3 separate regions of the Homo sapiens genome follow, and all the other regions are linked to region 1. The links come from fine-mapping of genetic effects on plasma protein levels. A gene starts in region 1. Each other region holds a variant in brackets. All regions are shown on one strand. Distances are between the middles of the regions.

Evidence for each region. PIP is the posterior inclusion probability: the model's chance that the variant is causal. The UK Biobank Pharma Proteomics Project read protein levels with antibody pairs (Olink). The fine-mapping took linkage between variants from a reference panel, not from the people measured, so its PIPs are less certain.
Region 2: its variant is fine-mapped to the plasma level of the ADGRB3 protein (UK Biobank, PIP above 0.99).
Region 3: its variant is fine-mapped to the plasma level of the ADGRB3 protein (UK Biobank, PIP above 0.99). The variant lies in the coding sequence of ADGRB3. If it changes the protein, the assay may bind it differently, which can mimic a change of level.

What each region holds. Positions count from the first base shown.
Region 1 is chr6:68,630,217-68,638,815 of GRCh38, reverse strand. ADGRB3 (adhesion G protein-coupled receptor B3) reads right to left here and starts at 3,534. Exons shown (of 32, transcript NM_001704.3): 1 at 2,816-3,534; 2 at 1,254-1,425; 3 at 1-155. The coding sequence starts at 140. LOC127898563 reads right to left here and starts at 2,926. Exons shown (of 1, transcript NM_001414704.1): 1 at 2,849-2,926. The coding sequence starts at 2,926. The coding sequence ends at 2,849. It overlaps ADGRB3-DT (ADGRB3 divergent transcript), which reads left to right and starts at 4,492. Exons shown (of 2, transcript NR_125872.1): 1 at 4,492-4,631; 2 at 5,760-6,153. RefSeq lists a silencer at 3,586-3,795.
Region 2 is chr6:68,959,742-68,967,741 of GRCh38, reverse strand. The region is part of intron 8 of ADGRB3 (adhesion G protein-coupled receptor B3); the gene reads right to left. Among named protein-coding and RNA genes, the nearest start is that of ADGRB3, 330 kb to the right of the region's middle. The variant T/C (reference allele first, on the strand shown) is at 6,049.
Region 3 is chr6:68,950,742-68,958,741 of GRCh38, reverse strand. It overlaps ADGRB3 (adhesion G protein-coupled receptor B3), which reads right to left. Exons shown (of 32, transcript NM_001704.3): 7 at 2,554-2,718; 8 at 1,933-2,097. Among named protein-coding and RNA genes, the nearest start is that of ADGRB3, 320 kb to the right of the region's middle. The variant T/C (reference allele first, on the strand shown) is at 1,950.

The sequences.
Region 1 (8,599 bases):
ATTTCACTTACAGAATACGATCCATAAATGACTCCCTTCACCAAAGTTGAACACCAGAAGTCTTGGGCAGCATTAAATCCAAACATAACCAGGAGATAGGTGGAAAATATATAAATCAGCAGGTTACGAACAGCCTTCATCCTATGTCATTTGGCCTGTAAAAATGGCAATGAAAGTAAAATGCAAGTAGGAGTCTACGTGCATTGAGAAAATAAACTCCTTTCAATATTACAGCCAGCTGTTTTCAAGATTTCAGTAAAAAGCCCTTTTTAAAAGAAGGGCAGGTAATTTTTATTTTATAACACAGGAAAATTATCTGTTGCTGTGTGAACAGCGCCCTCATGTGGCCATTCACAATGGTCAAATTCGCAACATTCAATTTAAAAATAACATTTAATAGATTATTAATAGGAATGCCCTAACTTATCTACTAGGATATCCTCCACGTCCATTATCATTCTATCGAATGAAAAGGGAAAACATGGAGTTTTAAAACGTCATAATGTAAATGTTAATTGTCGAAATAGTATTAATCAGTCTATAGTCTATACAACCTTTTCTCTCTCTGTCCTCTGCGGTAAACACTATCATACAAAATCTAATCTGATAATCTGGGAACAGCTGTCATCACATTATTTCTCTCCTCTTAAACGTGAAAAGTAATGATGATAAATTATGGCCACAATTTTAAAAGCACAAATAATAATTTATTACAGATGGAACATCATCTCCCAAATGCCCCACTTGCCTTTGCAGGGGCCACCATGTGAACTGCTCAGAAATTCCTTTGCAAAAACATGGGCATTCATGTGGATTAGTTAATTTTAAAACCATCATTTGAGAAAGGGCATAGATGGATAAATACATAGGGAAGACTTGTTGTTCAACATCACCATTGAGAACCAGGATTTAGGGCAGTCATTTCAATGTGACATGCCCTTTTGGGATACATAAAGTGGATCACTGTATTAGTATCTGTATCCAAAGGTGATATCAGTTAAAAAAAAAAAAAATCCAGAACCATAGTAATTGAGCTGGTTTCAGTCTTTTAATTTTTGAAAAATTATCTTATCAACTGTAATTTAAGGCTTACACATGGTAATAAAATACATTAACATTTTTGTTCCTAGCAGATTTCAATTATTAAATTGCTCCCTTTCCAACAACAACTCCAAAGCTCCTCTTTTCTTTTCTTTTCTTTTTTAATTTTAACCCTGGCTTTGGATAATAAAGTAGTCCTTGGTTATATTTACCTCTGTAAGTTGTTATCCAAAAATAACTTGAATATTTTTCAGCTTTAACCTTTAAGAAGTTATTTCTTAGAATAAATGACACTGCTTTTGTTTGTTTGTTTAGCCTTTGAGCTGATAAAAGTGATGCCAAGTTAATTTTAAAAGTCTTTAGGCTGCAGTCTCTTCCACTGTTCTGTAAACAGAGACAGACATACAGACATATAGATAGTTAAGAGTTTTCATGCCTTTGCCTGGGTCTTCTCTGAATCAAAGGATAAAACCCTCTTCCTTCCCATTGCATAACACACACCAACGCATGCACACCAAATCCAGTGACCGAAGTCCCTGAAGATAGATCTGCATTTTCCAGATTATAATTCAAATTCTATGTCTTGATATAGGCAAACACAGCCCCAACTCTAAATCTCTATATAGCAGCAGTTTAAAATAACATCAGAACTGCTGGGACCATCAAAACAGTGTTCTCTGTTTCAAGCAAATAGCTCAATGAATAATGCATTTTCTTCATGAGAAAATAAAGCCAATGAGCATTTAAAGGTTAAAAAAAAACAGAGAAAGTTGTAAGAAATTCTGGAAATAATTTCCTTTTTTTTTTTTTTTTTTTGGTGTTGCACTTTGCAGGCAATGCAGGTCTGCGCAGTGTTCTTCAGGATAGAGTGTAGGCGTTGAGAGCCAATGTGACAATAAGTGTCTAAATTAGGAATTCCATCCATGAAAGGGGACTTCATTTTATAATCAGGAACTCAAAAAGAGGTCGTATGTCTTTTCCTAATGAAATTGGTACTTTTGCTTTCATTTATTTGACAGTGCATGTCTGCAATGCCGTGCTCATCAATGATCAGAGAGTGAGGAAATAGCTCTGAATTCACTTTAATGCCTGCTCAAGAGAGCGCACTCAATATAATGCTCTTTATTTTTAATCAGTCTGGAGTACACAGTCTTATTTTGTTCTAAATAATAAAAAATAAATCATTACCCTCACCCCCCTTTGGACTGCAGGGCCCGTTCAAAAAGCCGTGTTTCCCTCTTAAAGAAGGGGTGGGGGCGGGGGCAAAGGCTGGCCACGGAGGTGTCAAGGATGTTTTATTTATTTATTTATTTATTTATTTATTTATTTATCTCTTGCTGAGAAGCAAACCAGCATTGAGTTTAGCTATTCTCAAAACTGATTTTCTGGGTGACACTTTAGTTTAGTCGAACATAGACGGCGCCATCACTCCACAGATTTTTCCCCCCAATAGAAGACCCACTGCCTTCTCTTAACTTCCTTTTAACCTAAAATTTTCCCCTCATAAAATTACCCCAATCACACAAAACTGCCAGATTTTCTAGGTCTCTCCGCTTATTCCTTCTGACCCAGCACATCTCTTGAAAACCAGACTTCTCTAACTTTTCAACTGCGGCGTTTAAGTAAATGCAGACAGTCGGATCTGCTCACAGCCTCCCCATCCGCCAGCAACAGCCTTTCCTTTCATTTTCCTCCCTTCTCAAACATTAAGCCCAAAGCTCCACGGTGGCGACCCCCGGCAGAGAAAAGGTGACCCCTGGACCCCCTTCCTTACCTTCCACTCCGAAAGCTCAGGGAGGCTCTTGCTCTAAGACACCAGCACAGGCACGCGTCCCAGCAACAGTGACGGAGAGACTCCCCTTCGGTCCCAATCACCGTTGCCCATTTTCCCCGGCTCAGCTTCCAAAATCAGGATTTATTTTTAAAAATGCATACATACGAAAAGCAAAAGGTGGGGGGTGGGAACCAAAGGGGGGTCGATGAGAGAGAGGAAAAAAAAGCCAGCAGGAGCCCAGAACCTTGCGCCGTATCCAACTGAATCCAACCTCCAAACCGAGGGGGGCTAAAGGGAGGGAGAAGCCCCCCCAAGGGAGACTCTAAGGAACCCCCCAAAATGTAAGTGGCTTAATAGCAAAGATTTGTTTCATAAAAGCTACCCCCAACAAACCAAGAAGCAAAGAAAGCGCTGAGACGAGAAGTGACCGGCGGCGGCGGCGGCTGCTATGGCAGATTTGTTGGGGCGGTGGGTTTATTACAGGAGTATTCGTGGTCGGATCGGAAGGCTCAAGCTTATGCTTTTTCCTCTTTCCGCTTTCCTCCCTCCTCCTCCTCCCCCCTGCAGGTACTGATGGACGGACGGCGACTAAGGAGAGCGGGGAAAAAAATCCTTGGCTGGTGATGTCGGAAAGCTGTTTGAATGCCCAGCGAGGAGGGAGGCGCGAGAGGGAGCGAGATAGTAAAGCTCTGTCTCGGGTGTGCGCGCCGGCGCGCAGTGCTCGCTCTCCCTTGGGCGCGCGCGCGGGGGGTGCGCGTGTCCCGGGAGCGCGTCCGCGCGGCGGCCTCCCGCGTGCTCGTGTGCGCGCGCGTCCCGGGTGCCGCGCGCCCTTCTTATGCACAGCTGCGGTGCGCCCCGCCGCCCGCCAGAGGCTCGGCTCGCGCGGCGCGGCCGCTGCGACTTCCTGGAGTTCTGCCTGCCGGGGGCGCGGGCGGGTGTGTGAGAGAGAAGGCGAAGGGAGCCGCGGGGTGGGAGAGGAGGGAGTCCCGGCGGGAGGGCGGGGGAGAGGCTGGCGGGAGGGGGGCTCCACGGAGCTCCAGCCAGGGCCGCGGTTCGCCTGCACGTCACGGCTACTCAAACCCAAGCACGTCCCGAAAGCGGTATTTTCTGCGTCTGGGAGGTTTTTGCATCCTCAGTTCCCACCGCTGGGGCTGGCGGCGACCAACTGTAAGAGAAACTCACTGGGAGGCGAGGCAGGGGGGTGCGGAGGATGGGAAGGCGACTCTGAAGGGTGGGAAGTGAATGCTGGACTTGATCGTCTTTCTCTTTCTTTCAGCGCAGACCTGTCGCAGCCAGAGAGCTGTCATTTCAGTACCGGGATTCAGAATTGATCCAGTCCGCAGCGGAGGGGGCACATCCCAGCTACCGAGCTGCTGAGTGTCTCTGGCTGGAACAATAGTATTTTTTTCTCTGCGAGGCTGCAATTAACATCTTATTTGTTCTGGCTCCATACAGGCTTTGTCAGGATCGCGGTGCGGCGACCGACGTTGGGCTCTTGCATTGCTTTGTGCTTGGCAATGGAATCATGGTTTCGGGGTCTAAACTTTTGTTTCGTTTTGTAGTCTTAATGTATCTGATTCTTTTTCAAGTTTCCCTAGTAACAGGTTTGGGGACGGGGTGGGAAGAAGCGAGAAAAGGGGTGAAGAGAAAAAACCAGATTATATAGAAAGGAAAAAGGGAAAAGGGATGTTTCCCCACCTTTTAATCTAACTATCTATCTGTCTGTCTATCTATCATCATAGATAGTCATTTTGCCTCCTGGACAGTTGGCTGACGAAGTGTCTGATAAACCAGCTTCAGATACATGCTACAAAAGGTCATTCGCCTCCTGATTATGTTTCTACTTGTAAACGCAGTTGGTGGTTTGCAAAACAAGTGCTAAAATAGTGCAGTGATGTGGTGGGAGGAAACCATAATGGGTAATTCATATAAAGTGCTGGAATCTTCGTAAGGGTGAGTTTCTCGAGCGGCAGGTGAAGTTGAATAAAGCAATTTTCCATCATTTGTTCCCCTCACTCTTGCATTTTTTTCCTCCGCTTGTTTCTCTCCCCTGGGGCGATTATGGATAGCCAAGAACACCATTTTAAAAGAGATTGATAGTGAAAACAGGAAGTTTATGGTCTGTTATCCACTGGAGTTGTTTGAAATATTAAAATTGGTCCTTTACTTCTTAATGCATATTAATAGAGTGACCCTCTTCAAGGCTTTCCCGTCTTAAACGAATGCCTGGGATAAACACTGTAAGGGGAAACAGTTAATAATTCCCCAGCAGGCTTTAACTATTTTCCCAGTAACAAATCACCGGCAAGAGAGCAGCCTGGGTGGCATTTTGGTTTTGTGTCATTTTGGTTCTTTACAATATTTTTTATTCATTTAAGGAAATGTTAAAAGGAAATAATTAGGGTTTATGTCCAGAACAAATTTTGAAACACCGTTTAAGCAACACATTTTCTTTTAAAAACAAAGAACATTGAGCAACACAAAGGAGAAAAACATTTTATTTATTTCAACTTCCCTAGAGATCGTAATTATGATTTTCGCAAGGCAATTTGGTCAGTTCTGTTACTTTATCCAGAGGAAAAAAAAGCATGACAGATGTGGAATAAAAACGGAGGAAAAAATGCTTTGGATGGTTTATACATAAAAAGGAAAGAATGTAATGTGAGGTTCAGTTATACCTCTATTTTGCATCTAGTGATTTCTCATATTATCTTGTAACACTGATTTTGATGTTTCTTAGAAATTCTTAAAGTCATGACACAGTGGCATAAGAATAACAGCTGAAAGGGACAATTTAAAAGCCTAAATCCTAAATGGAAAGGTTCACTTACTCCCAGGATCATTTATATTCAAGTAGAAGTCAGGGCAGGGTCAGAAAAGAAAGCCACCCTTAATAAAGCGCTTCACCCTTCACATTGTTTCTCATAACCTTCATAAATTGCAGGCTACTGAGCTGGCCTGATGATGATCCTTCTGAGATATATTTATAGCAGATGATTTGTGGATGATAACTACGCCAAGCAAGACACTGTCTCCAGTAACCCCAGGCTCGTCTGACTTCCTCAGGGGATTATAATAAAGAATCACAAAAAGAACCCTATATGGACAGTCTGGTCTCTGGACACTAACAACAGCACAATCCAAAGGCAAAGAAAGGAGGAACCACCTTGTTTCATGTCTGCAAGCTGCTCCATATGAAAGCATTGCTGACATGTTGACCCAACAGCAAAAAGAGAGCAGCAGTTTACACACCCTCAGCTCTCTGTCCTTTCCTTTCTATTGATGTTGGTCCACTTTTATGACTGAATACATATTAAAATCACCATTTCAAATTATAATTATCTGCTTTCATTGGTCTCTTTCACAAGTCTATGTCTATATTTATGTTTACATATATAAACACATATACACATATTTTATACATACATATGTATATGTATGCACGCATTATTTGTAAGTACACATACACGTGTGTGTATATATATGTATATGATATGTATATGTGTATTTCAGTTGATACACATATATTTGCTTGGGAAGTTTCACTACATTGCTTTGTATTTCTCTTTTATAAGGTAATGCATTTAATTCCAAAACTACCACATTAATTGTATAAATTGATTATTACATAAGTTTCCTTGATGATTTACAGAAGAACTATTGAGAGGTCAGTGTTAGCACATCAAAATATAGTCTGGTATGGCATTTTAAATTGACCCAGGTATCTAATATTAAAGCCTTTCAAATTTATCTCTCCTGCTATTATTTTATTAAGATTACTTTGGAATGATGAGGTTATAAGTGTGATTTATTTCTGTTTCATCTTTTTGTCTGTATGTGCTAAGTTTAGTCCCTCCACTTTGAGAATAACCCTATAATCCAGGATCATTGCTTAAAATTCAGTATCATTTGCAGAATTCTCATACTCAAATAAGAATGTTTCTAGAATATGTTTACTCAATTTTAGAAAGTATTTTCTCTTTCCTTCTTTCTGTCATAGTTTTTCTGATATTACTGTATTACCACATTCTAAACTCTGTGACTTGTTATTTTCAGTAAGGCTTTAAGAAGCATGGATAGGTTTGTAGGTTATTTCTTGTTAAATATGCCTTAATTTTTTAGTATTTAGTATTAGTATTTAGTTTTTAGTATTTAGTATTTAGTATCTCCCATATATATATATGCACACATATATATATACACATATATATGTACACACATACATATATACACACACATATATATACACACACATACACAAAGCTTTGGAATGTTAATTAAATGATCAAAATATTACAAGATTACATTGTTATGAGAACTTATCCTTAATATTAGCATATTTACTATAAAGTTAAACAACTTCTTCTCCTCTGTCTCCTGTTTATTATCATTATTTTATTATTATTAAAAAAGGAAGTCTCTCAGAAACCAAGCTGTATATCCTCTAGTCTCTATGTAAAAAAACAAATTGGTCATTTTCTACTTGGACATCCCAGAATAGAAAGTACATTGAAGTACTAAAAAATAAAGGGATAGACTTGGGGTTAAGGGAGATGTCATAGAACAGCTATCCTGGGTTAGTTCAAGTGTAGTCCTATTCCATGCTAGGCAAAGTCAAGGTTACAAAAATCCCAGTTGCATCAGGTTTCCATTTTTTATCATTATTTCCCTATACAACGATACAAGTTAAAAAAAAGTCGGTAAATACTTTTGGCCATCAATTTTCAAGATTTCATTGGTGATATTAAGGAAATGCTGTAAGTAGGTAACACATAATGTCATATTTGTGTGCTGTAGAAGTATCTTGGAAAATATGGACTTTAAAACCTCAAAATATGGGTTTGCAATCGAACATACATTCACCCCCAAATTTGACCTTTTTCAGCTAGTTATTTTCTCATATAAAGTTACTATACTTACACCATTATCTTTAATCCCTGAAATTTCAATTATACTAGAAATCAAGATTCTTCATTTTTACTCACGAAACTGACACTAAGTATATACCTCATTAAGGACAAGAAGCTATGAATTCTCTGGACTTCAGTTATCTCACAGAAAAGAGCTTGATTGAATAATGTCTAAGGCTCTTCCTGACATAGTCTAAATAACAGAAGGTGTCTCACAAGAAATGGAAGCAGTGAGAGAAAAATGCAATTAAATCCTAGACTAGAAAGAATCACAATTTTCCCACTCACAGGTTGGAAATGCCTCTCTATTCTATCACAATTTTGAAAACCTCCATAGTTTTACTAGCTTTGCCTTTCTCCCTTGCTATCATCTTCTGAGGTACAGACAGTCCTTTCCATTTTTATTCCTCTCCCACTCTGATAATTTTTTTCTTTGACAGAAGTCCCACTTTATCATTAATGATGACAATAACTAAGGCTGCCAGGAACAGCACATCTGCTGAGCTTTATCAACACCAGGTATTGAAGTCTATGGACTACCTATTATTTCTGAACATTTATTCATGTTCAGTCCTGTTTCTACCAATTCTGATCCACTTATCTCTACCATTTCTCTTCCTGGCAGATTCTCTCATTTTGCCTTCTGGATCTCCATGCTTTTTTATACCAACAAACAAGAGGAAGAATATTCTCTACCCACTTCCTTGACTGAAGCCTGCTCTTTTATGAAGACATGGCATCTCTTCCAACCGTGTCAAACAGATGCAATTTATATGTCTGCTGCTTCCATACCCTGATTAAATGGGTCAGTGGCAGAATCAGTATCCTTAGTCTCCCCTTTGGTTTCAAATATGTACTCCTTATTTCAGTTTCA
Region 2 (8,000 bases), 330 kb before region 1:
ATACATGTTTTTAGCTGATTTATTTTTCTCTTTTGGCTAGATCTGTTTTTGAATTACCCTATTTCTTAAGATCGCAGAGAATGAAGATGATTTTGCAAAAATACTGTAGACGTTGTGTGTGGGGCGGGGGTGGAGGTGGGGGGTGGATCCTCTAGCAGTAGATAGCCGTGTCCAGTTAGGAGCAGAAAGATAGGGAGGTTAGCTACTACAGTTACCTTAAAAATTAGTCAAAAGATGTTTCCAGGGTATCATGTAATGACTAAGTTTGGCCTTGGAGGGCTATATCTGACTTACTAAGATCCTATAGGACCATTTTTTAGAATCCCCCAATGTGCCCTACACACATCCTCACTCTGGTTCAGGAAGAAGCTGATTAAATAGTTGTTTTCCTTTGACCAACCACATCTTTCTATTACTGAATTTTATCTTCTTAATGACTATCAGTTTGGTCTGCCTACAAACAGCCAAACAAAATGAAAAGCAAAAGTCAATAATTTTTTAAACCTAGAGATGTCAACAACTTTTTGTTTTGTTCCACAGTAAATTTATGAAGCCTTGGATTCATTGTGCTTCTTGGAGACAGAAATCCACTACACAAATTATTATTATTTTTAAAAAGGAAGATGGCAGGGGAAATCATAGATTCACAGGTGCAAACTGGTCCAGGGTTTTCAGCTTTTTAGTAGTAATGTCAAACGGTACAGCTGCTTTAACTATTTTATCAAAGGTGACTTGGCATTCTTTGAAGAGTCTATCTCAGAAAATAGGTCGATTTATGCTTATACCAAAAGCAAAATAGCTTTAGACATTAAAATAACAATTGATTTTCTGCCATCTCATCTTTATGAATTCCCCAGTAGTGGGATCTTTCTAGGTACTTCTCAGTGCCACTTATAGAATTCATTCATTCAACAAATATTTACTGGGCACCCAGCATATCCCAGTCACCTTGTTAAATACTACACATAGAAAAGGCTAAGTAAGAATAGTCGATGTCTCTTGACTCCTAAAATGGTCATAAAGATGATAATTTGAGGAATTACAGTACACAGGATGCCCACTCTAAGCTGAGAAGCCCTGGCTGCTCTGGGAGTACCTTAGGGAAGAGTGTGTCAGTGGAAGATTTCCAGAGGGATGTCCAGGTTGAGGTGTAAAGGAGAAGCAGGACTTCCACCAATGAAGAAGGGGAGAGTGTGTCCTGGGAACCACATGTGGGAAAATCCAGGGAGCAAAGAGAACTGGGAATAACCAAGAAGGTGACCGTTTCAGAAAGGGTAAAGTGTAAAGTTGGGGATAAGTAGAGGTGGGTGATTCAGCAGGAGGAGGGGTAATATATGATGAGGTAAGCAAGGATCTTGACTTTATATTAGGGGCAAGGGAAATTTATGACAATGTTTTAAATGCTTGCTATGCCTGCAGTTTGGAGAAAGGGTTGAAAGAAAGAGAGCTGAAGACAGGGAGGCCTACCACAATCTAAATGATGTAATTAGGGAAGGGATGAAGAATCATAGGATGTAGATTAATTCAAAATTTATTTAGGAGGTAGAATGGGCTCAGCACTATGGCTGATTGTATGTAAGAGGTGAGGAGGATAAAGAAATAAAACACAGAACTCAGGTTTCCAGGAAGGATATCTTATGTGCTAGCGAGACCCTGAACTACAACATGTGAGGAAGAGATGACTTGGGAGAGGAGATGCCGAAAATAGTTTTGAGTTTGACATATCTAGGCACATACAGGTATTATAAAAAAGTTAATTGATATATATGATGGAATCCAAGCTCCAGAAGAAAACAAGCTAGAGATAGAGATTTGTTTTAATTATTTTTTCTGTTTAATGGCACTTGTGTGTGTTTTGTAAATTAGAAAATAAACTAGCTGAGGCTGCTCTCTAGACTGAACATAAAAGCATACGATTGTGCAGCAATAGGAAGGATTCTCTCTTTGTATGCCTTAGCTAAAAGGAATAGTAACTTTGTTCATCAGCTCAAAGATCTCACTGTTTGCTCTTACTAGTGCAAAGATATAAAAATCCATTTGTAAGATACAACTATACTTGAAGTCACAAGTATGTAGTTAGCATGCCCCTTAAAGTAAGGTAGCAATTACCTAGTGATTAGCTGTTAATCTGTCTATTCAAACTGATTTTCTGTCTCTTAAAAAGAGCAGAAATGATACAGGGCTTAAATCAATTTTGTGTGGAAAATTAGTTTTTACCCCATATGCTAGAATTTCAGCATTAAAAAGAAATTGATTCTAAACTATAGAGCTGATATACACACACACAAAAAAAAAACATGTACTACTCAAGAACCCACATTTCAAAATTCGCTTGTTGGCAATTCATGAATTCTTGTGTTTGGGGAATTCCCTGTGCTGGAGGATGCAGAGGAAAATAAGACGGATCCAGTGTCTGTGCTCAATGACTTACAGCTCTAATTTCCAAGGTGGTACCTACTCATGTGAAGAATTCATGCTGCTGCTAAGGTCTGTGGGAAAAAGAAGAGTGTTTATGAAGTGTGTTTCATAACAGCATTCCTCATATAGGAAATGGTTTTAATCTGTCTCAAATGGAAACAACATACAATTATATCAGCAATATTTACATAACATTATGAGTTATTGTTCTTACTGTGTTATATATTTTAATTCACAGAATTCTTATAACCTTGTGAACAGAATTGTTATTCTCATTTTAAACATGAGGAAGTCAAGACAGAAAGTGTTTAGTGTTTAGCCTGAGGCCACTAAGCTAAGAGATGATGGACCTATGGTCAATCAAATAGTTGAGTCCATTCTCAGAGAAGTTTACCTCTTCTCTAAGCAGAGGAGTCTTTTTATTGTTATGGTGGTAAACAAGTTATTTATACATTTTGCAAATATTTGTTTTTAAGTCTGGAAGTTAGCAAACCATGAACTTTCAATTTATTAGCAAATGGTATATATTGCAGATTGTTTAAGTACCTGGTGGACAGTGTTATATATACTTACTCATAAGCAAATTCTGTATTATTATTGCATAATTTTATATTTAAACTTAGCAGACAAGGTCACTCTAGTTTCAACCTGATAACAAAGTTAATTAAAAAATTAGCTAACTAACTTTGAGGAATAACTCTAAAAAGCTATTTACTAACTTTTAGTTATACTGAATTTTATACTGGGGTATGCTCAACATTTTGCTGGAAAGTTACGTTTACTAAGTTTCTGTATTACCTTAGGAACAGCCAAAGACGACAGTGAGTCTTAGCCTTCTCTAGGTCATAGCATATGTAGAAATGATAGTATTTGGAGGCACACTGGGAGAAGTAGGCAAGGCTACTGAAGACTGGAGACCACTAGCCACAGTCTCCTGCCTTGTCAGTTGCTCTGAGGCTTTAGGAACCACTATTTGGGCACAGCTGGGACAAATCCTCCCATGACAGGGTAGAACTGCCTTGAGAAGCTCTGGCTTAAAATAATAAGCTGGGCTGAGATTTGGGGAAACTGAACAACTCGCTATAGAAACATATATTTTTCCTACCTCCCATATCTCAATTACTTATTTCCAAAGAAAGATGAATCATACCACAATTTATAACTACAATATAAAAAATCATATATGTGATAGAAATGTTCTTCCAGTAAATCAGTCCATTGAACAGACTTTTGAAACACTGAAAGGCCATGAAATGTAAGACACTAACATCAGAGTCATTGCAAACTTTTTATTCATATGCTTTTATATAAATGTTTTCATTAGTTATAGCTTTTATCATATGAAATAAAAACATTCAAAAGGGCTTGACCTATTATATTTAACTAGGCTCAGTGAAGAATCAGGGATTCAGAAGGCTGAGAACAGATAGTTCATCTGCAATAAGCTGGAATTTCAACAGATATAATCATATAATAATAATACTATATAATAAGGAAATATCAAACAAATTTATAGGGGTTCAAAGAAGAAAGAACACTTATGAGATTGTGGGAGAAAGAATTATTAGGAGAGCAGACATCTCTTAATGGATGGGCTCCCAAATTCTCCCCTATCAACAGATGAGGATAAGAGAGGGGACAGGGACATTAGGGGAGCCCAAGTGAATAACAGTGCAAACAGCACCATAAGGGGAGAATATGCACCCCTGTATTCAGAAACCAGAGGCTGCATCTGCTTGATTCTATCACATATGAACAAATGTATATTAAAATATATATCATAAATGAGTAGGATGAGATAACATTGGAAAGCTATTGAAGCTGATAGAAATATTAGAATCTCAAGGATCCCAGTAGGATGAAATTTGGCCAGTAATGAAAAGCCACAGAAGTTTTTGAGAAAGCAAGTCATAAGAACAAGGCTATAAAGAAGAGAGAATAATCAGATAAATCTGTGTGGAAGAGATTAGAGAAGGCAGGTGTTGTCATAATATGGGTAACAGAGTACATGAACTGCCACTTGATGATCCTAATTAGCTCCAGCATTTCATCCTTGAAATAATCTTCTGCAGCACATATTATTATCCCTATTTTATAAATGAGGACACCAAGGCCCAAGTCGGTACTTTGTTGGACTCCATAGTTCAGGCTCTTCCTGCTGCACTGCTCCTCCCTTACTGGAAGCTGGTGGCAGGAGGAAGTGAAAGCAGGGCCACTGAGAGAAATACCATGATGGACTCCATCTGGAACAGGGATTGCTAGAATGAGGAATCACTCCAGATGACACAGAGGATCTGGTGATCAAAGAAAAGTTTCCCCCAGTTACCCAGAGTCTGAATTGAGTCCCAGGTAGGAAAGCTTTATCAGGTTTTTGTGAGTGATTAGACATAAAGGTACATTCATGGGTGTTGCTCACAGAGGCTATAGTTGATGAGAGAGAGATCAACAAAAGAGAAGAGTGCTGGGGCAGTCTTAGGTCATTCATATGTCAGGATACACAAGGTGAGAAAAATAAGTGTTGATGAGAAACATCAAAGACCAATATTCAGATTTAGTGTCTTGGTAAACATTAAGCTCAAAAAAGGTTTAAAAGTAATTTTAAATCTCTTAATTTAAAATAATTGTTAAACAGTTCCTAAAGTTTATTTTTTCCCAGAAAAACAATAAGGGATGAAAAGAATAAATAAAAAAATAGTAAAAGGTGGTGCTTAAATTTTTCTTTTCAATTTGAGAATGATCAGCATGTTGCTAAATATTTCTAAATTGAACAAGGTAGGGTAATATAAGATTACAGAAAATTGCTTTTTAAGCAATTCATGGCAGAAACTGTAAGAGTCTGATCAAAGTCTCATCTGAAGAAAATCTGATAAAATGAATTATGACAATAATTATCTCCATAGCAACAGGTTTGAATAATGGGCATCTGGTATACATACTGTAGCCACAGTAGTACTATCTGTTATTAATTCTTTTAGATCTCAGCGGTTCTTCCCCAAGTCTGCCCATACAACTCAGCTTGATTTGCTGCAGAACTGTAGACTAAAATAGGTGGTAAAACTCATCCTTTTTGAGAAGATTGGATACTATTTTAGGTATTTATTAAAAGCAACAGGTGGTCTCTCTCATCTATGGGATATCTTCAAGTTCTAATTCATTTTCCTGCTTTTTACTATTTATCTGAAGTGACTTGGCAAGAACAAATAGAACATTTAATATTAAAGAAGTCAATACCTAGTGCCACCTACTGTCACCATTAAACTCAGTGGCTGGTTTTAGGTTAACAACTGGTATGGACACTTGAGTAGGGCCTAATTTGCTATTCCCAAAAATATGCAGTCAAAACTTGCTTTAACCTTTTGAAGAATGCAACAGGTAATAACATAATTCCTTAAAGAGTATACAGATAATATCTGAAAGCAGAAAATAATATAAATTCCAAAGGAATAGGAGCTTTAAAAAGTACTATTTGTGCTTAATTAAATAATATAAATTCCAATGAAATAGGAGCTTTAAAAAGTACTGTTTGTGCTTAATTAAACTTGGTTTGAAATGAACAAGGTAAAGCAGGTGTCAATTTGTATGCAAATATTTCATTATGGAGTAGTGTATTTTCTCTTTAGAAAAGAAATG[T/C]AAATTTTATGCTGACATATTTGGGTTTCTAATAATGATTACATTCAGTCTTAAAATTGAGTGGTTCAAGAGTTTAGTTTAGAAGAATCTAACTTGTTAAATTTGTCTCAAAGACAAAAATATTTGTATCAGTAGTGATTAGTTCACTATTCTACTAACTGGAACCTGAGGAGAAAATAAGTCAAAGTGAGCTAAGACCTCATCTTCCTCCATGACACCATCCCCACACCAAGTATTTTATAAGTGTATGTGTATATATTAGCTAATTAGCTAATACCTGTGGGGGATAAGAGGCAGGGAAAATATACTGCTCAGGAAGAGAGATGCTGGGGCTGACAACATCAGGACTGCAGATCTGTGTCCTGGCAGTGCCTGGTTTTACATCAGACTTGTTCAAATGATACCCAAGTTGTTTCTCCTGCTCTTCGTGGTAGAGGAAAAATGAGGATTGGAGAACTGAGAGTTGGATAATGACTAAACCATCTTTCTTTGTGCACAACAGCTAGTTAATAGTCCTATTTTTCTTTAAATGACTGCTGTAAAGAGATCTTATTTTGGCTGAAACATGAGTTGGCTAGAGGCATTCAAAATGAATTGTGTTTTCATTATCAACCAATTCCAGAAAGAATCCCTCATCGTTTATGAAAAAGGATGAAAAAAATAAAATTTTGCAATTTTGTTGAGGTGATATTTCAACTTTCTCCAGTGGAACAGAGGTAGAGGACTGTATTCCACTTCTTTGTTAATTTTATCACCTTATCATTATTATTTTTACTATAAGTTAGTGCAACTGAAAGGATGATTTGCAGACCAGCATCTTCAGCATCACCTGAGACCTTCATAAAAATGCAGATTCTCAGGCTCATTCAAGACCTACTGAGTCAGAATGGCTGGTGGGGTCTGGCTCAGGAATCTGTGTTTTAACAAGCTCTCTGGATGATTCCTATGTACACTGAAGTTTGGGAAGCACTGCTTTGGACAATGAGGGAGGCACTCAAAAGAAGATAGGAGTGCAAAGTAGGCAAGCTTTGTTCTTCTTTCCTACTGAAGCTAAGTTAAAAGACAATTACTTAGAGACCAAAGGAAGACTCTCCTGGTCTCCAGAGGAGGCATAATCCTGTTGGAGAGCAACCTTATACAAATAAGGAACCGTCACTTCCAGAATCACATTTTTCGTAAGCAGGGTGGGGATGGGGATCACATTCGCTATATTATAGGGCACCAAATCCTAATACAAGTGTATTACAGTGTTCAAGACAAATTTTGCATTACCAACACTACGGCTGCCCTCCTTTAGTATGAATATTTATAGATAAACATCACAATAATTCCTACATTTCTGGTCTAAGTTGCTAATATTGTATACATTTATGATATGGCTGACTTACTTCACAAGTGTTTATCAGCACATTTAACCTGGAGGCCTCACCCACCACTTACAGACAAAGCAGCTGTGGTTCCAAGAACGAAATTTTATGTATAAATAAAGTGTAATTTTTACTTGTAAATGGTAGGTTCCAACTTAGCAGTTAATGACTAAAGAGTAATGATCCTAGAATTGGAGTTATAGAAGTAGCAAGCCCTTCTCCTGGGAGCAGGGCAAAGTGGTTCCTACGAAGCTAGAATGTAAACTTAGGACAGTCCAGCAGTAACACTTGCTTTCTGAATATTATTAACCAGGGGAATATTGGGGTGAAAATCAAACTAAAAACCTAAAAAATATTATGTATGACATTGTAGCAATTAATAAAATTAGGGGAGCTATTACCATCCTACCATTTTAACCTTCAAAGCCTGAGGATACACAATGAGATTGAGATAAATGAAACCATTATCTGGTGAGTCTGACCAATTTAAAAATTGGACCACTTATTATCTTCCCTGTAGCTATTCTATAGCCCAACTAGCATTATTTTTAAAAAATGTTTTCTTATTTCTACAATTATTTTTTA
Region 3 (8,000 bases), 320 kb before region 1:
GAAAAGAGTAAAATGAAAATGTTAATAATAACAAAAATGTGTAGTGTATATAATTTTTTTTTTAGTTTTATGTGATATTTTTTTAACCTGCCTTAAGTCATGAAAGCCAGCAAACAAGCCCGGCAAATAAGGTACACTATCTTTTTCATAAATAGATCTGTAAAATGTTTTTCAAACAGCAGGTGGCAATCTCTGTAAATTTGATTGCAGCAGTACTATCTTGGCTCTATATGTGCAGATGAAAGACAATTTTAAAAGACCAGTTAAGAACTGTGGTATGCCCAGACTGGTTTAGATAACATCAAATATTGAAGGGGTTGATTTAATTATGCTTACTATTCTGTGAAATTTCTCCCTAGGCAAAATAAATGTTTTTGTTTAATACATCTTAATTCTTCTTACGCAGCACTGGAAGAATTTCACAGTGGTAATCTGAATAGGTATCATCCTCTTAACAACCCTGCATGCTGGTTACTTTTTATCATATTGAATTCATATGGTGTTAAGAATTAACAAAAGTAATTTTAGATTTTTTTTTTTCGAGACAGAGTCTTGCTCTGTCACGCAGGCTGCAGTGCAGTGGTGCAATCTCGGCTAACTGCAACCTCCACCTCCTGGGTTCAAGCTATTCTCCTTCCTCAGCCTCCTGCGTAGCTGGGATTACAGGTGCATGCCACCACGGCCGGCTAATTTTTGTATTTTTAGTAGAGACGGGGTTTCGCCACGTTGGCCAGGCTGGTCTCGAACTCCTGACCTCAGGTGATTTATCTGCCTCAGCCTCCCAAAGTGCTGGGATTACAGGTATGAGCCAACATGCCTGGCCCTAATTTTCGATCTTTTTTAAGCCCCCACAAAACTCCAACTGACATATTGTTACTCTTAAAATCCAGTTCTGTTGTTATTCTTAGTGTTGTACTGTGAGAAGTCTTTATAATACTAACTTTGGAAAAATACAAAGCTTTGACTCCTGGATAGCTCTTAGAATACCTTGGTTCTTCTAAGTTGAAACAATCATGTGAGATAAAGGCAGAAATTCATAGCATTCTGAACTGAAAAGGAACCTCAAAGATCTCACAACCAGCTGTACTCACTGTACCCCCAGGAATCAGACAGCCAGAGAGATCAGTCAGCTTGCTCACAGAGTTACTAGCAGCAACAGGATTCTAAGTGGGTCTTCAAATTCTCTAGGTTCAGCACGTTGGCACTATATTGTCAAATTTTAAAATTCTGTCCTATCACATCTTTAGTATACTTATAATATTTTTCTTAGGATCTCATTCTAAAATCCTGACTTTCACTTACTTATTGAGTCCTCAGTGTGTCAATAATATTTTAATGGAAGGTACACATGATTAGGAAGGAGTTTTTGTTCTAAATGATCCTGTAAAATATGTGCTGTATAATCTGGGCAGTTTCTGACCTTTCATTATTTTCTCTGCTTATATGTAAAATCTTTTAATGTAGCAGGACTTTCATTTTTTCATTAGCAATTAAGACTTTATACTTTCATTTTAAAATGCATTCCTCATAGGAATTTCCTTTGCCAATGAAAAATGGGGCAAACGCAAGTAAATGTAGATAATCAAGGTCACACATCAAGGTCAGAGTAATTAGCAACAGAACTTAAAAGCATCTGAATGTCAGCGACACTTCTTTATCTTCTCATTCATTTCTTATGTCTTTACATTTCCAGTATATATATCCTAAGGCAACTTGTTTTGTAATCTCCACAAACAAATATTTCACATGGAACGATTCTATGACACATAAACAGGGGATGCCCCACATAGTACAGAAACAAGTAAATTGCCACCTATCATTAGTAGTTCTTTAGTTGAGGAATATGACCCTTAACCAATGACAATATTTTTAAATCTTTTTTTTTTCACGTTATGAAATGTTTCTTTTGGGATAATTTGGGTTCATTCTCACCAGGGCATCGCTGCTCA[T/C]TGCATCTTCTCACTTCTTCGCCCGTTCCTTCACATTGCTGCCCTGTTATCACTGCACCCTGACAGGTCCTTATTCGCCTTTCCCAGCCGCCATCACAGGACTTGGAACAACCACTCCAATGACCCCACTGATTCCATTGACCATTGGCTGAAAGAAATGTTTCATGGTCAATGTCAGTCATCTACCACACACTCCTTTAAAAATTTTAAAATCTGAGAATGTTACTACCCCTTCCATTTTTGTTAATCTACTACTGTGAATAAACCTTATTCAAATATTTAACTTACAGGTCAAATATAGAGCATTGCGAAGAACAGTGTAAAAAAGTGTAAAAAGTGCAAGCTCAGTGCTAAACTTCCTCAAATGTATTCGTAGTTCATCTCCTGAATTTTATTACTTTATTAGCATGGCATACATTAGAATAAATTCTGGTATAATCGGCTTCATTAATAAATACATGTATACACACACACACACACACACACACACATATATATATAATGATTATCTTCTTTCATGACCCTCTGGCATAGTTCTGACACATTTTATAATGTGCCCTTTACATGGTACGAGTGCCCATGATATGCAGGAATCAAGCCCTACCTGTACATTCAGGGTTATAGCACTCTCTGCTTTCTGCCCATGGCCCTCTGCATTCGGAGCCTCCATGGGCAGCTGCAGTGCACTGCCGGCTTCTCTGCTGAGTCCCATTCGAGCACGTTACTGAGCACTGGCTCCACGAACTCCACTCTTGCCACTGTCCATCAACTACCAAAGCAGAAAAAGAGACAGCATGAGGATATCTTCCAATAGGACAAGCTGTACAGAAAGTACCTGGTAAAACCACCCTTGAAGATGAACCCCAATCAATGGACTATGAATGAATACAATGGAAGGTCACACCAGCATGAGATTTTATTAACTCCCCAAATATTATTACCTTATTTTCCCACTTTTATTTTATTTTATATATCCAGCATATCTTTTTTTTTTTCATTTGGAGATGGAGTCTTGCTCTGTTGTCCAGGCTGGAGTGTAACGGCATGATCCCAGCTGACTACAACCTCTGCCTCCCAGGTTCAAGCAGTTCTCTTGCCTCAGCCTCCTGAGTAGTTGGAATTACAGGTGCCTGTCACCACACCCCAAAATAATTTTTGTATTTTTAGTAGAGACAGGGTTTTACCATGTTGGTCAGGCTGGTCTCAAACTCCTAACCTTAGGTGATCCACCTGCCTTGGCCTCCCAAAGTGCTGGGATTACAGGCGTGAGCCACTATGCCTGGCCTCCAGTATATCTTTTGATTCACTTATTTCTTCAAAAATATTTATTGATCACTCAAAGATGCAATACATTGTGCTAGGAGATGGGGTACATGAAATAGTGAACAAACTAAATACTGAGCAAGACCTTATCGAGCTCATATTTTAGAGAAAGAACCCCTAGAAATAAACCATGAATTACATGCTAGATAAATCAATTACATGGCAGTGTTGCAAAGGATAGTTTCAGGACATTGTGAGATAAGACTTTGGAAGGTCCAGAGAGTCTTTCTTGACAAACCGAGGCTTCAGGCAAGCCTTGAAGGATAAAGAGAACATACTTAGGATAAAGGTATGTTCCATGCAGAGGAATATACAAAGATCTTTGGAAGAAGAATCATGGGCATTTCCAGGAACTGGATGAAGGTCATTGTGAAAGGCATCTAGAGTGCTGAGTGAGGAGAGATTGCAGAAGTTTTAAAAAAGAGAGAGGCTAGATTATGAAAAACTTTCATCAGCTGTGTTAAGGATTTTGGATATTATTCTCAGGTGTTTAAGAAGCCATTGAACACGCCTGTAATCGCAGCACTTTGGGAGGCTGAGGCAGGCGGATCAAAAGGTCAGGAGATCGAGACCATTCTGGCTAACACGGTGAAACCCCGTCTCTACTGAAAATACAAAAAAATTAGCCGGGTATGGTGGCGGGCGCCTGTAGTCCTAGCTACTCCGGGAGGCTGAGGCAGGAGAATGGTGTGAACCCGGGAGGTGGAGCTTGCAGTGAGCCAAGATTGTGTCACTGCACTCCAGCCTGGGGGACAGAGCAAGACTCCGTCTCAAAAAAAAAAAAAAGCCATTGAACGATTTAAATAATACATAATACCATAATACTATGATCAGATCTAGTGTAGGATTGAGAACAAATTACAGAAGTTGGGAAGGATCTGAGCTGTGATGATGAGGCAGTGCAGATGCAGTGTCTTGGAGAGATTAGAAAGTTACTAGGAACGGGTGGTAAGAAGAAACTGAAGAACTGGCCATGGGAGCTGATGCAAAGAGAGGATCCAGGTGACTCTTAGATGGCTGTTTTCTGATGACTGGAATGTAATATAGACTGTTCAGCTTGATTTATCTTTGGGAGATTCAAATTGAGATTCATGTATTAATTCATTCAAATAATTTTGAGAATCTATTAGTCATCAGACACTGTGATAGGTGTTAACAAGATACACAGAAATAAAAGAATATAAATCCTAACCTCAAAAATTTTATAATTTAGGACATTCTGCATGCAAATGAATAAATAAATAAATAAATGTTTAAAGACAATACCATCTTAACATGAAACATGAAGTATTTAGGCTTTCAGAGGACATACTGCATCTACTGGGGATGTAATTATAATAGACACAGAGTGGTGAGTTATGGACAATTTAGACAAAGTCAGCATTGACAAAGGCACAATCCCATATGCCACAAAATAGAAATAAACAAAGGATTTAACCAAAAATACTTTCTAGATTAGAATGTGCAAACTAGCATGTAAAGGTTATAAATGCATCAGTCTGTGGATGTCTACTTTTTTCCAAGATCAGTTCATTGTTCTTAGTCAATTTGATCACAGGTGAAAGAGAATTCACCACAAATCTAAAGTTTCAAAATAAGCTAATGGTGCTATGAAAATCCATCCAAATAAACAAGAAAGCCTGGCAGAATATAATAAGTACTTTCAATCTAACTTCAAGCCTTACATGTAGGTATTAAAAAGAGATTGTTTAACAGGCATCCAGCTGTACTTAATAAACCCTTTATGAGATTAAAAATCACAAAATGCCAATTTAATCATTCCATTAATGTAATTTTAGCATCTCACTTTATTACAAGTGCCTGATACAATCATATTGGTTATGTAGTCTATTTTCCAGACTAAAAAGAAAATTCTAGTGAAGCAATAGGATATTATAAATTATCTATTTCCCCTCTATTTTGGCTTTAAACATGAGTGCATTTTTCATTTCAGAATTTTTCTATTCAAAGATAACATTTATTGAGCTTGCAGTATGAAGCCTCACCATCCTAAGCATTCTGAGAAGGGTTTATAAAAAGAGATTCATGCCCTACACCTTACAATCTATTTGGCAAAAGGATGTACAGTTATCCACATTATTGAGAACATTCAGAAAGAAAGCAGCACATTAACAAAGGTGAATTAGGTGCTGCTAAGCTAATCTTAGTGCTGAGTGACTAGAATAAAGGACTATGTGATGTCCTTAAGTATTCTGCTTTAAGGTAAATTTTGAGTATGATTTATTATGAATGCAATAGTTATATGTTTTCTGGCAAAGAGAGAATAAGAGTGTCTAGCAAAGTGTGGCATCTAGAATGTGCAAGTCAAATGTCGAAATCAGAGAGAAGATAATTTGGCAGGGGACTGTATTTCTATGAAGAATTAGGAAGGACCTTGCTGAGATGATATTAGGAAGAATGAGAACATCTATTTGTGAAGTGTTTTGCTCCTCAGGCTTTTACTGAAATAAGACTGCATCAATAATAATAAAATGTTTTGAGACTTTAAATTCATATATTTGTAGTTATAGTTGTTCAATCCTTTCTAACCATGTACATATTCTGTGTTAATGTTAAAGCTTAAGAGTGTTAATATTAGAAATCTGAGGAGCAATTTGAGGTTCAACGCTACCATAAACATCAACAAAACATGTATTTTAGATGGGGTCAGTTTTGTTCACAAAGTCAGTAACAGAGAAAATAATGAAATTGAAGATACATCAAGTGGGCATTTTTTGCGATTTTATTTTACACTGAGAACCAAAAGATCCTTTTTGAAAATTAATTGCACTTTTTTTTGCAAGCTTTTTAATTTTTTTTTATTATACTTTAAGTTCTAGAGTACATGTGCACAACGTGCAGGTTTGTTACATATGTATATGTGTGCCATGTTGGTGTAATTGCACTATTATGAAGGAATTGGCTTGACAAAATAACTCATTGGATATGAAAAACAAAAGAGGAAAGGCCTAATATTTCTTTAGTGTGTCAAGTCCAAATCATTGAGAAAATAGATAATTGAAAAGTCAGGTAGGAGATGAATATATAAATTTAACTTAAAAAACTAGACAACAGACTATATATATATAAACACACATGTAATATATACACACACATACATATATACAGACAACAGACATTTTATGTATATATATAATTTTTAGTGTCAAATATGAGACATTGTTTTATTTTTAAGTTTTTCTTTTCAGTGATATTCTGGATTAAAAAAAATTATTAATGGATTTGTTTTATGGGCCGCAGCCCCATAACACTTCTAGAAACACTAGTGTCATTTTACTGAATGAGAAAAAAATAGAGAACAGGGAGGCTTTGGGGGGGTAGAAATTAAGAGTTCTGTTTTGGATATTTAAGCATTTCCAGATAGAATTTGTGCATTATCTTTTAGGGATAAATGTAGAGAAATGTAAAAATAAAAACAATTTATCATATTATATATCTCTATTTCTTTTTTTATAAACACTCATCTAGGTTCTCCAAGATGTGAAGGAACAGCTTTTTTCTTGTTATCTGATGTTTAACTGGGGAGCTAAAGTGGTGAGGAAGCTGCTTCTCCTTCAACCCTGCAGGCAGGCTTGACTTTTTACCGGGCTCAGCAGCGAGGTAGTAGAGACAATCAATGTCTCTCCCCACTCAATGCCTGCTCCTTGTGTATGGCTTACTTCCAATATTTGTAAGAGGGACCTCTCAGGGTCATTGCAAACCTACGAATTTAAAAATACCTCAAAGCTTTCTTTCTGAAACTGTCTTTCTATTGAAAACTGATTCACATCTCAGCATTCTGTCAGAAAAGAGTTCCCTGGTAAGCTGGGAAAACGTAAACACTCCACAATCCCTCCTGGAGTCTCGTAACACACACAGGAGTAAAGATTTATAGAAAATTTAGTCTGTGATTGGCATTGCTCAACTGCGCCACGGGGGAGCTGTGGTGATAAGGACTGGCTGAGCTCTGCTCTTATGAACATGTAGTCTGGGGGCTGTAGTGGGGGCAGATGATAAACGAGTAAATGAATAAACCAGAGCGTTTCACTAGAGGTGTTATGAAGACAACGTGATAAAGAGGGCGATGTGATAGGGAGTGCTCAGGCAGTCTCAGGAGACGACGATATTAGAGCTGAGTCTGAATCACTGGACAGAGCCAACTCTTAATTTCCACCTCCCCAAAGCCTCCCTGACCTCCACTTTTTTCTTATTCAATAAAATGACATTAGTGTTTCCAGAAATGTTATGGGGCTGAGGACTGTAAAATAAATTCACTAATATTTTTTTTAAAATCCAGAATAACACTGAAAAGAAAAATTAAAAATTAAACAATGTCTCATTTTTGGCAATAAAAAATCTTTTACATGTAAAATATCTGTTGGCATGTGAAGATCTGTGTTCAGGAACAGAGAGAAGACTGGGGCTTGTGGGGATCCTGGAAAAGGAGAGGTGGAAAGAGATGGGTTCAGATGCTGTGCAGAAGCCAGATCTTATAGGGCCCTATAGGCCATGCGACCAGGGAAGATGCAAAGTATGAAAAGATTTTAAAGAAAAGAAGTGATAAGATAGAATTTACATTTTAAAACCTAATATTGTGGTTTTGTGTAGAACGGATGGTACAGGGGCAAGAATGCGTACTGTGAAATATTGGAGGACTATACTGTATGTAGTCCAGAGAGAGCTGATGGTGGCTTGAATTATGGTGGCATCAGTGGGCATAGAAAAAAC